Regions from separate parts of the Homo sapiens genome. Here all the other regions are linked to region 2. Evidence: fine-mapped expression QTL. A gene starts in region 2. Each other region holds a variant in brackets. All regions are shown on one strand. Distances are between the middles of the regions.

Evidence for each region.
Region 1: its variant is fine-mapped to the expression of TMEM9B in blood mononuclear cells (TOPMed, PIP 0.96).
Region 3: its variant is fine-mapped to the expression of TMEM9B in esophagus mucosa (GTEx, PIP 0.97).

What each region holds. Positions count from the first base shown.
Region 1 is chr11:9,012,165-9,014,927 of GRCh38, forward strand. All of the region lies in intron 1 of NRIP3-DT (NRIP3 divergent transcript), which reads left to right. Among named protein-coding and RNA genes, the nearest start is that of NRIP3-DT, 9.5 kb to the left of the region's middle. The variant G/A (reference allele first, on the strand shown) is at 1,249.
Region 2 is chr11:8,962,988-8,965,750 of GRCh38, forward strand. It overlaps TMEM9B (TMEM9 domain family member B), which reads right to left and starts at 1,455. Exons shown (of 5, transcript NM_020644.3): 1 at 1,222-1,455. The coding sequence starts at 1,326. It overlaps TMEM9B-AS1 (TMEM9B antisense RNA 1), which reads left to right and starts at 1,688. Exons shown (of 5, transcript NR_073431.1): 1 at 1,688-2,161. RefSeq lists silencers at 919-1,108, 1,149-1,648.
Region 3 is chr11:8,859,034-8,861,796 of GRCh38, forward strand. It overlaps a transcript of DENND2B not described here. Among named protein-coding and RNA genes, the nearest start is that of DENND2B, 50 kb to the left of the region's middle. The variant A/AAATG (reference allele first, on the strand shown) is at 1,300.

The sequences.
Region 1 (2,763 bases), 49 kb after region 2:
ATGTGGAAATCTTTTTGTGCCTTTTATTCATCTCCTGGAGTAGAATTGCTGGGTCACATGGTAGCCCGTGTGACTTTTGAGGAATTAACAGACTACTCTCCAAAGCAGCTGCACCATTCTGCATCTCCACCAGCAGTGTATGAGGGTTCCAATTTCTTCACATCCTCTTCAACACTTTTTACCATCTGTCTTTTTTATTATAGCCATGCTAGTGAGGTTGAGATGGTATCTCATTATGGTTCTGATTTGTGTTTCCCTGATGACTAATGATGTTAAGCATCTTTTCAGGTGCTTATTGGTCATTTGTTTGTCTTCTTTGGAAACATGTCTATTAAAATCCTCTGTCCATCTTCTTTTTTTTTTTTTTTTTTTTTGAGACAGAGTCTCGCTCTGTCGCCTAGGCTGGAGTGCAGTGGCGTGACCTCGGCTCACTGCAAGCTCCGCCCCCTGGGTTCACGGCATTCTCCTGCCTCAACCTCCCGAGTAGCTGGGACCACAGGTGCCCACCACCACGCCTGGCTAATTTTTTGTATTTTTAGTAGAGACAGGGTTTCACTGTATTAGCCAGGATGGTCTCAGTCTCCTGATCTCATGATCCACCTGCCTCGGCCTCCCAAAGTGCTGGGATTACAGGTGTGAGCCAACATGCCCAGCCTCCTCTGTCCATTTTTAATTGAGTGATTTGTCTCATTATTATTGACTTGTAAGAACTCTTTACATATTGTAGCTATTAGTCTCTTGTCAGATATATGATTTACAAACATTTTCTACCATTCCATGGGCTACCTTTTCACTTCTTAATAGTGTCTTTTGAAGCACACAAGCTTTAAAATTTCACTGATGTGCAAGTTGTTTTTCAACTTCCCTCCCCTTTTTAAAATAGAGCATTCTTCATTTTGTGTTTGTCTGCATTTTCCTTGTATTGAGATTGAGGTGATGCATTTTTGGCTTGAGTACAGTATAGGTGATGGTACGTTCTTCTCAGGCTATCACATCTGTAGGCACATGATATCCATCTGTCCTTTATTGGACATGCTAATTTTGATCATCTGGTCAAGGTATTGCCTGATTTCTCTGCTGTATAATTACTGGCTTTTTTCCTATCTCATTCATGATGTTTAAAAAAATGAAATTCACTCTTTTCAGTCTGTCTACACTCCGTTAGCACATTGCACTTTGAGTTCTGTACTCTCCCTGGCACATGCTGCACAGTGGTCAGACCCACCTTGGCCAGGCCTGTGTCCTCAT[G/A]TCTCAAAAAGGGGCTTTGTTTCAATGACCACAGGTTTCATGCAAATTATTCACACCTTGCCACAGTGAGTGTCTTCATTGACCTTGCCTGCCTAGAGACCTGAGTACTGCCTTCTTGGACTCTGAAGTTGGATGTTGCCATGCTGGAAACATCGAATAGAAATAGGCAGTTCTGGAAAACATGTGCTTCTGGGCTCAGCAAGGAGATGTACTGTGATCCTCACATACCAGGGGCTGAGGATTGGAACTCAGAAAAAATGAAGGATTGAGAGGCTGCGCTGTGTATGTGCACTTGTGTCTGTGCCGTCCCTGACCTAAGAGAAGCTCAGGCGATTGGAAGAGCTCATTTTACCTTCCCAGCTCAGGAGGACACGGGTGTTTGGAAGGCCTTGTGTGAGAACCCAAATCAGGCATCATAGCCTTTCATTCCTACTTCAAGCTTTAATTTTTCTGTTGCTAGGACATACCCCACTAGAAAAACTGTGACTAAAGAACTTTCCATCTCAGTGAAATGGGGAAACCCAGCAGAGAGTGAACCCCTTTAAAGAATGTTTCTTGGGTTTAACTTCTAAAGTCTCAAGAAGTGAAATGTAACGATGAGGATGACAGTTAACGTTTATTGGGCCCTTACTACATGCCAGGCAATGTTTCAAGAGTTTTCCAGGTATTAACTCATTTAATTCTCAAAACAGCTCTATCTTGTAGGTACTATCATTATCTTTATTTACCACATGAAGAAACTGAGGCACAGAGAAGTTAAATAACTTCCACAAGGTCACATAGCTAATAAGTGGCAGAACTGGGATACAAATCCAGGTACCGTAAAGGACATAATGGGAGTCTTGGAGAATATGAGCATTATGAATCATAAATCTTAGAGAAGGCACCTATCAGTGTGATAAATGTAGATAATGCATTTTCAGAGAAGTACATTAGGAATACTGGGCCCGGGGGGTACTGGGTGAGTGATGCTGTTTGAGTCATCCCAGTTCCTCATGGGGAGCCTTAGTGATGGTTTATCAAGCCTCTTTTTTTAAATTGTTTTGTTTTTTGTTTTTGAGACAGCATCTCACTCTGTTGCCAAGGCTGGAGTGCAGTGGCACGATCTCGGCTCACCGCAACCTCTGCTTCCCAGGCTCAAGCAATTCTCCTGCCTCAGCCTCTCGAGTAGCTGGGATTACAGGCATGCGCCACTACCGCCCGGCTAATTTTTGTATTTCTAGTAGATACAGGGTTTCACCATGTTGGCCAGCCTGGTCTTGAACTCCTGACCTCAAATGATCCACCCGCCTTGACATCCCAAAGTGCTGGGACTACAGGCATGAGCCACCGTGCCTGGCCCTATCAAACCTCTTATACTTGGCACCTGCATTACTTAAAACTCCAGTTTAGGTACCTGATGTGGCTGCTAAAAGCTGACTTCTTCAAGCCAAGTCACCTGGAAGTAACATTGGGGTTCCAATGTGCTACACTGTCCACAGTTTTATAGCATGATCAGGCATCACACACACACCG
Region 2 (2,763 bases):
CACAAACGTATTCAGCAACCACTTAGTGAGCATTTGCTCTGTGTTAGATCTTGTGCTCAATAAGGTGGATTCAGATAAGCATAAGACATGGTTTCTGCCCATAACCAGGACACACCCTAGTAAAGGAGACTGAAAAATAAATACATGATCACAATACATAAAGTTATGAGGCAAGATATGCAGAGGGTGCCAGCAATGTTTTCAAAGTCAGGAGACGTGCTGCTGTCCCTGTTTCTGGTAGGAGGTAGAGATGGTTTCAAAAAGAATCTCTGAATCAAAAACATTTGCCTGCCTGTAACCTTTCCCCACTCCTACATTTAAAGATATTATAAATTAAAGCTCTTATTTTTAAAAACGCAATGTCATTCTGTTTTCCCATCATACTAATGTGAATCCCTTCTGTTCTCCCCCAATGATGAGCTAGCTCATCAAAGAGGAAGCACAGGTATGCATGGAGCTAGGGCAGGTCTGGAGAGCTGGGGCACCAGAGAACAGTATGAGGGAACTAGAAGGTCAAGAAATCGAACCAGGGAGGCCACAACCTCACCTCTCTTGCAGTTTGGTTCTTCCCTTACCCACTAAATTATCAGGAAGAGAGAAAGCAAGAAAGGCACCAAGGGACTCGTGGAGGGAGTTAGGTGAGAATATGAAGCAGGTGAGAGATGCTCCGTAGGCCCTATTGGGAGGGAAGTAGGCCAGGAGGGGCAAGTTCCCACCACAGGAAGGGAAGTGTTCAGGGGTGAGCTGAGCTGAGTCGGCCCTTGACAGGGAAGGCTCTGTCAGATGGGGGCTTCCTATCATTCTGGCTTGGGGCATGCGGGGCCTGTGAGGCTGGCGGAGGGCGCAGGTGGGCTGTCAAGAGCTTAGGGTGGAAAGTTAAAGGCTCTCGGAGGTGAAAAGGTTGTCAAGTGTAAGATGCGTGCAGCCGGGGCTGGGAAGGGAAATGTTAAGGCGGTGGGGGGCTGCTGTCCGGACTGTGGGCACTGTCGGGGCTGGGGACGACCGTGGGGCGCTGCCTGCCAGGCTGTCGGGGCTGAGGGCGAGAGTGCCGCCGGGCAGTCGGGAGGGGCGGGGCTGGTGGCGGCGGGGGTCTGCCGGAGCTGTGAGGCCAGGCGTATGGCTGTCAGGAATGGGCCAAGGAGCAGGTTGGCAGACCCAGTTTCCGCAAGGCCGGTGGTAGGGGAGGAGCTTCCGTCAGGAGCGAGGCTGGGCGGGACTCACCTTGGCGGCGTCTGACAGCTGCGCCAGCAGCAGCACGGAAAGCGCCAGGCACGACAGGCTGAGCAAGGAGCCAAGCCGAAGAAGGCCTCCCCACAGGGTCGCCATCGCTGGGGGCCCAGCGGTCCCACAGCCCGGAGCCCCCGCGACCGGCTCCCGGCTCGGGCTCAGGCTCAGGCTCAGGCTCAGGCACAGGCTTGGGACCCGGCTGGGGATCCTCCGCCCGCACTTCCGTCTGGACGCGAAGGCGTCACCGGGCGCGCCGGGTCAGATGCAAAAAGCATCCGCCCCGGAACCGGTTACCAGTGCGAAGGGCCGGGAGGCTGGGCAGTCCTGGTGCCCGCCTTGGCCTAGCCCCGGCCCCGGGACGGAAGGGGGCCTCTGGGGTGGCAGCCTGGGCCCAGTAGAGCTTTGCATCTCTTGGATATCTTTCCCGGGCGCAGAAGCTGCGGGGCTTAGGGAGTCGCCATTGCGCTGGAAAGTCCTCCCGCCCACGGAGACCCCAGCAAACTCCGAGTGTCACACAGTCGCCTCTGGCGACCCGTGCGGGCCGGAGCCGTTCGCGCACAGGCAGGGCGGGTGCTGAGCGTGGAAACGGGGCTGGAATTGGCCGAGCCATGCCTTTCCGGGATGCCCACCGCCAGTCAAAGGGTTGGGGGTGGTCTCTGCACCTTAAGTACTAACCTGCCGCCCACGCGCCTCCTGACCACAGCACCCCGTCGGCTTTCTAATTCTGTGAGCTGCCCTCGTGGGCGTGGCCTCCCTGTGGAGCTCCCCATGTGCCTCCCCTTGGTCCAGCCTGCAGCTAGGAAGTGGGTCACAGCGACGGGGCTGGGCTGGGCCAGGCCAGGCTCCGGGAGATGTGGAATTGGCGAAACAACTGCCCCAGTAGTATCCTCCGCCTAGGACTCCAAGAGGTGGCGAATTGGGGCACTACGCCCGGGTAAGGCAGTGCCTGTTCAGGGCTGCCGACCTGTCTCCCCAGGGCTGTCATTCTCAGCAAGTACTTTAGGAGTGCCTTAGATCGGCACATTCTCCCATTGAAATATTTTTGTTAGTGGAGACAAGGGAGGTAATGGCAAGGACACGGATCATCACAGCCCCTAGGGATTTGTTGAATGACCTTTGGCAAATCACTTCCCTTCTCTGGGCCTGTAGTTCTTGGCTGAATATGAGGGAATGGATTTCAAATTATGCTCCATGTAATACCCGTGTTTTTACCTCTGTAAACAGATTTTTTTGTTTTTTTTGAGACGGAGTCTCGTTCTGTCCCCCGGGCTGGAGTGCAGTGGCGCGATCTCGGCTCACTGCAACCTCCGCCTCCCGGGTTGACGCCATTCTCCTGCCTCAGCCTCCCTAGTAGGTGGGACTACAGGCGCCCGCCACCACGCCGCCCGGCTAATTTTTTTTTTCTTTTTCTTTTTCTTTTTTTTTTTTTGTATTTTTAGTACAGACAGGGTCTCACTGTGTTAGCCAGGATGGTCTCGATCTCCTGACCTTGTGATCCGCCCGCCTCGGCCTCCCAAATTGCTGGGATTATAGGCG
Region 3 (2,763 bases), 100 kb before region 2:
CCCTTGGGCGCTCCAAAAGCTCCAAAGGCCTCCATTTGGCCCAAGATTTGCCATAAGCCTGCACGTCCTAAACCTTGTCTGGGGCTCCAAACCCCCTGTATGTATCAATAACTCAAAATTTAGAGCTTGATGATGTACTGCTTTATATCATTCTTTAGGTAACAATTATATGTTCTAAGTTCAGGTTATCACTTTCCCTCAGTTGTATTGTATATCTACTACCAGGCTTGGCATAGGGTTAGATAAACACTAACGTGTTTTTTTGTTTGTTTGTTTGTTTGTTTGTTTTTTTGAGACAGAGTCTCCCTCTCTCGCCCAGGCTGGAGTGCAGTGGCGCGATCTCGGCTCACTGCAAGCTCCGCCTCCCGGGTTCACGCCATTCTCCTGCCTCAGCCTCCCGAGTAGCTGGGACTACAGGCGCCCGCCATCGCGCCCGGCTAATTTTTTGTATTTTTTAGTAGAGACGGGGTTTCACCATGTTAGCCAGGATGGTCTCAATCTCCTGACCTCGTGATCCACCCGCCTCGGCCTCCCAAAGTGCTGGGATTACAGGCGTGAGCCACCGCGCCCGGCCACGTGTTTTGCAAATACTCATTCATGGATTATATCATGTATATTTCAAAGAAATCAATGTAAGGCACTATACTTCCTTTTAAAACAAAGAACCATCTTCTCTTCAAGGAATAATGTGAATTATAAGTTATATCCTCAGCACTGCCCCACTACCCCCACTACCCTATCAGTCCCATCTTGGCAGAGACAGGCATGCTGACCAAAGAAGTTACACCATCTGCCATGCCATTTTCCCACCTGACTTCCTGTCCACATGCTTTGTGAACAAAGTTTTCTGTCTCTTCTTTCCTGGAAATTTCTCAAGCTGTAAAAACCTCCCATACCTAGCAACATGTCACACCTGCCCCTGTCCCCAGAATTCCCCATGGCCCTTAAAAAAGCCTAAACAATGAAGCCAAAATATTCCCAGAAAAACAGGAGCATCAAAACTTAGGAAGAAAAGAGGGAAAGAAAATGGGCATAACCCAAATAAACACCTAGAGAATCATCCAGCAGGGTTCTTCCCGCCAAGGTACAGGAATCTCAGTGCCTTCAACTAGTTACTATGAATATTTATAAAATGACCTTAGGAAGTCCTAGCCAGAACAATCAAGCAAGAGAAAGAAATAAAGGGCATCCAAATTGGAAAACAGGAAGTCAAACTATCTCTGTTTGCTAATGATATGATTGTACACTTAGAAAACCCTAAAAGATGCCTAGATCCTCCAAAAGACTCCTAGATTTGAT[A/AAATG]AATTCAGTAAAGTCTCAGGTTACAAAATCAACGTACACAAATCAGTAGCACTGCTATATACCAACAACCACCAAGATGAGAATCAAATCAATAACTCAATCCTTTTTAATACCTTCAAAAACAAATAAAATACCTAGTAATATACTTAACTAAGAAGGTGAAAGAGCACTACAAGGAGAACTACAAAACGCTGCTGAAAGAAACCACAGGTGACACAAACAAATAGAAATACACCCCATGCTCATGAAATCAAAGAATCAATATCATGAAAATGAGCATACTACCCAAAGCAATCTACAGATTCAATGCAATTCCTATCCAAATACTAACATCATTTTCGAAAATATTAGAAAAAACAATTCTAAAATTCATATGGAACCAAAAAGGAGCCCAAATAGCCAAAGCAATCCTGAGCAAAAAGAAGAAATCTGTAGACATCACGTTACCTGACTTATACTGCAAGGCTATAGTAACAAAACAGCAATGGTACTGGTATAAATGTAGATACACAGACCAGTGAAACAGAATAGAGAACCCAGAAATAAGCCAAATACTTACAACCAACTAACCTTCAACAAAGCAAACAAAAACATAAACTGGGAAAAGATACCCTATTCAATAAATGGTGCTGGGAAAACTGGCTAGCCACACGCAGAAGAATGAAACTGGATCCCTATCACTCACCATATACAAAAATTAACTCGAGATGGATCAAAGATTTAGATCTAAGACATGAAACCATAAAAATTCTAAAAGAAAACTTAGGAAAAACTCTTCTGGACATTGGGTGAGACAAAGAATTTATGACTAAGACCCCAAAAGCGAATGTAACAACAAAAATAAATAAATAAATGGGAACTAATTAAACTAAAAGGCTTCTGCACAGCAAAAGAAATAACCATTAAACAGACAACCCGCAGAATGGGAGAAAATATTTGCAAATTATGCATCTGACAAACAACAAATACCTAGAATCTGCAAGGAACTCAAATAATTCAGCAAGAAAAAAACACTCCCATCAAAAACCGAGCAAATGATATGAATAAACATTTCTGAAAAGAAGATATACAAATAGCCACGAAATATATGAAAAAAATGCTCAACATAACAAATCATCAGGGAGATGCAAATTAAAACCACAATGAAATACTCTACCTTACTCCAGCCAGACTAGCCATTACTAAAAAGTCAAAAAACAATAGATCTTGACATGGATGTGGTGAAAAGCAAATGCTTATACACTGCTGGTGGGAATATAAATTAGTACAACCTCTATGGAAAACAGTATGGAGATTTCTCAAATAACTAAAAATAGATCTACCATTCAATCCAGCAATTGCACTACTGGGTATCTACTCAAAGGATGAGTCATTATATCAAAAAGATACTTGCACAAATATGTTTATCGCAGCACAATTCACAACAGTAAAGATACGGAACCAACCTAAGTGCCCATCAACCAA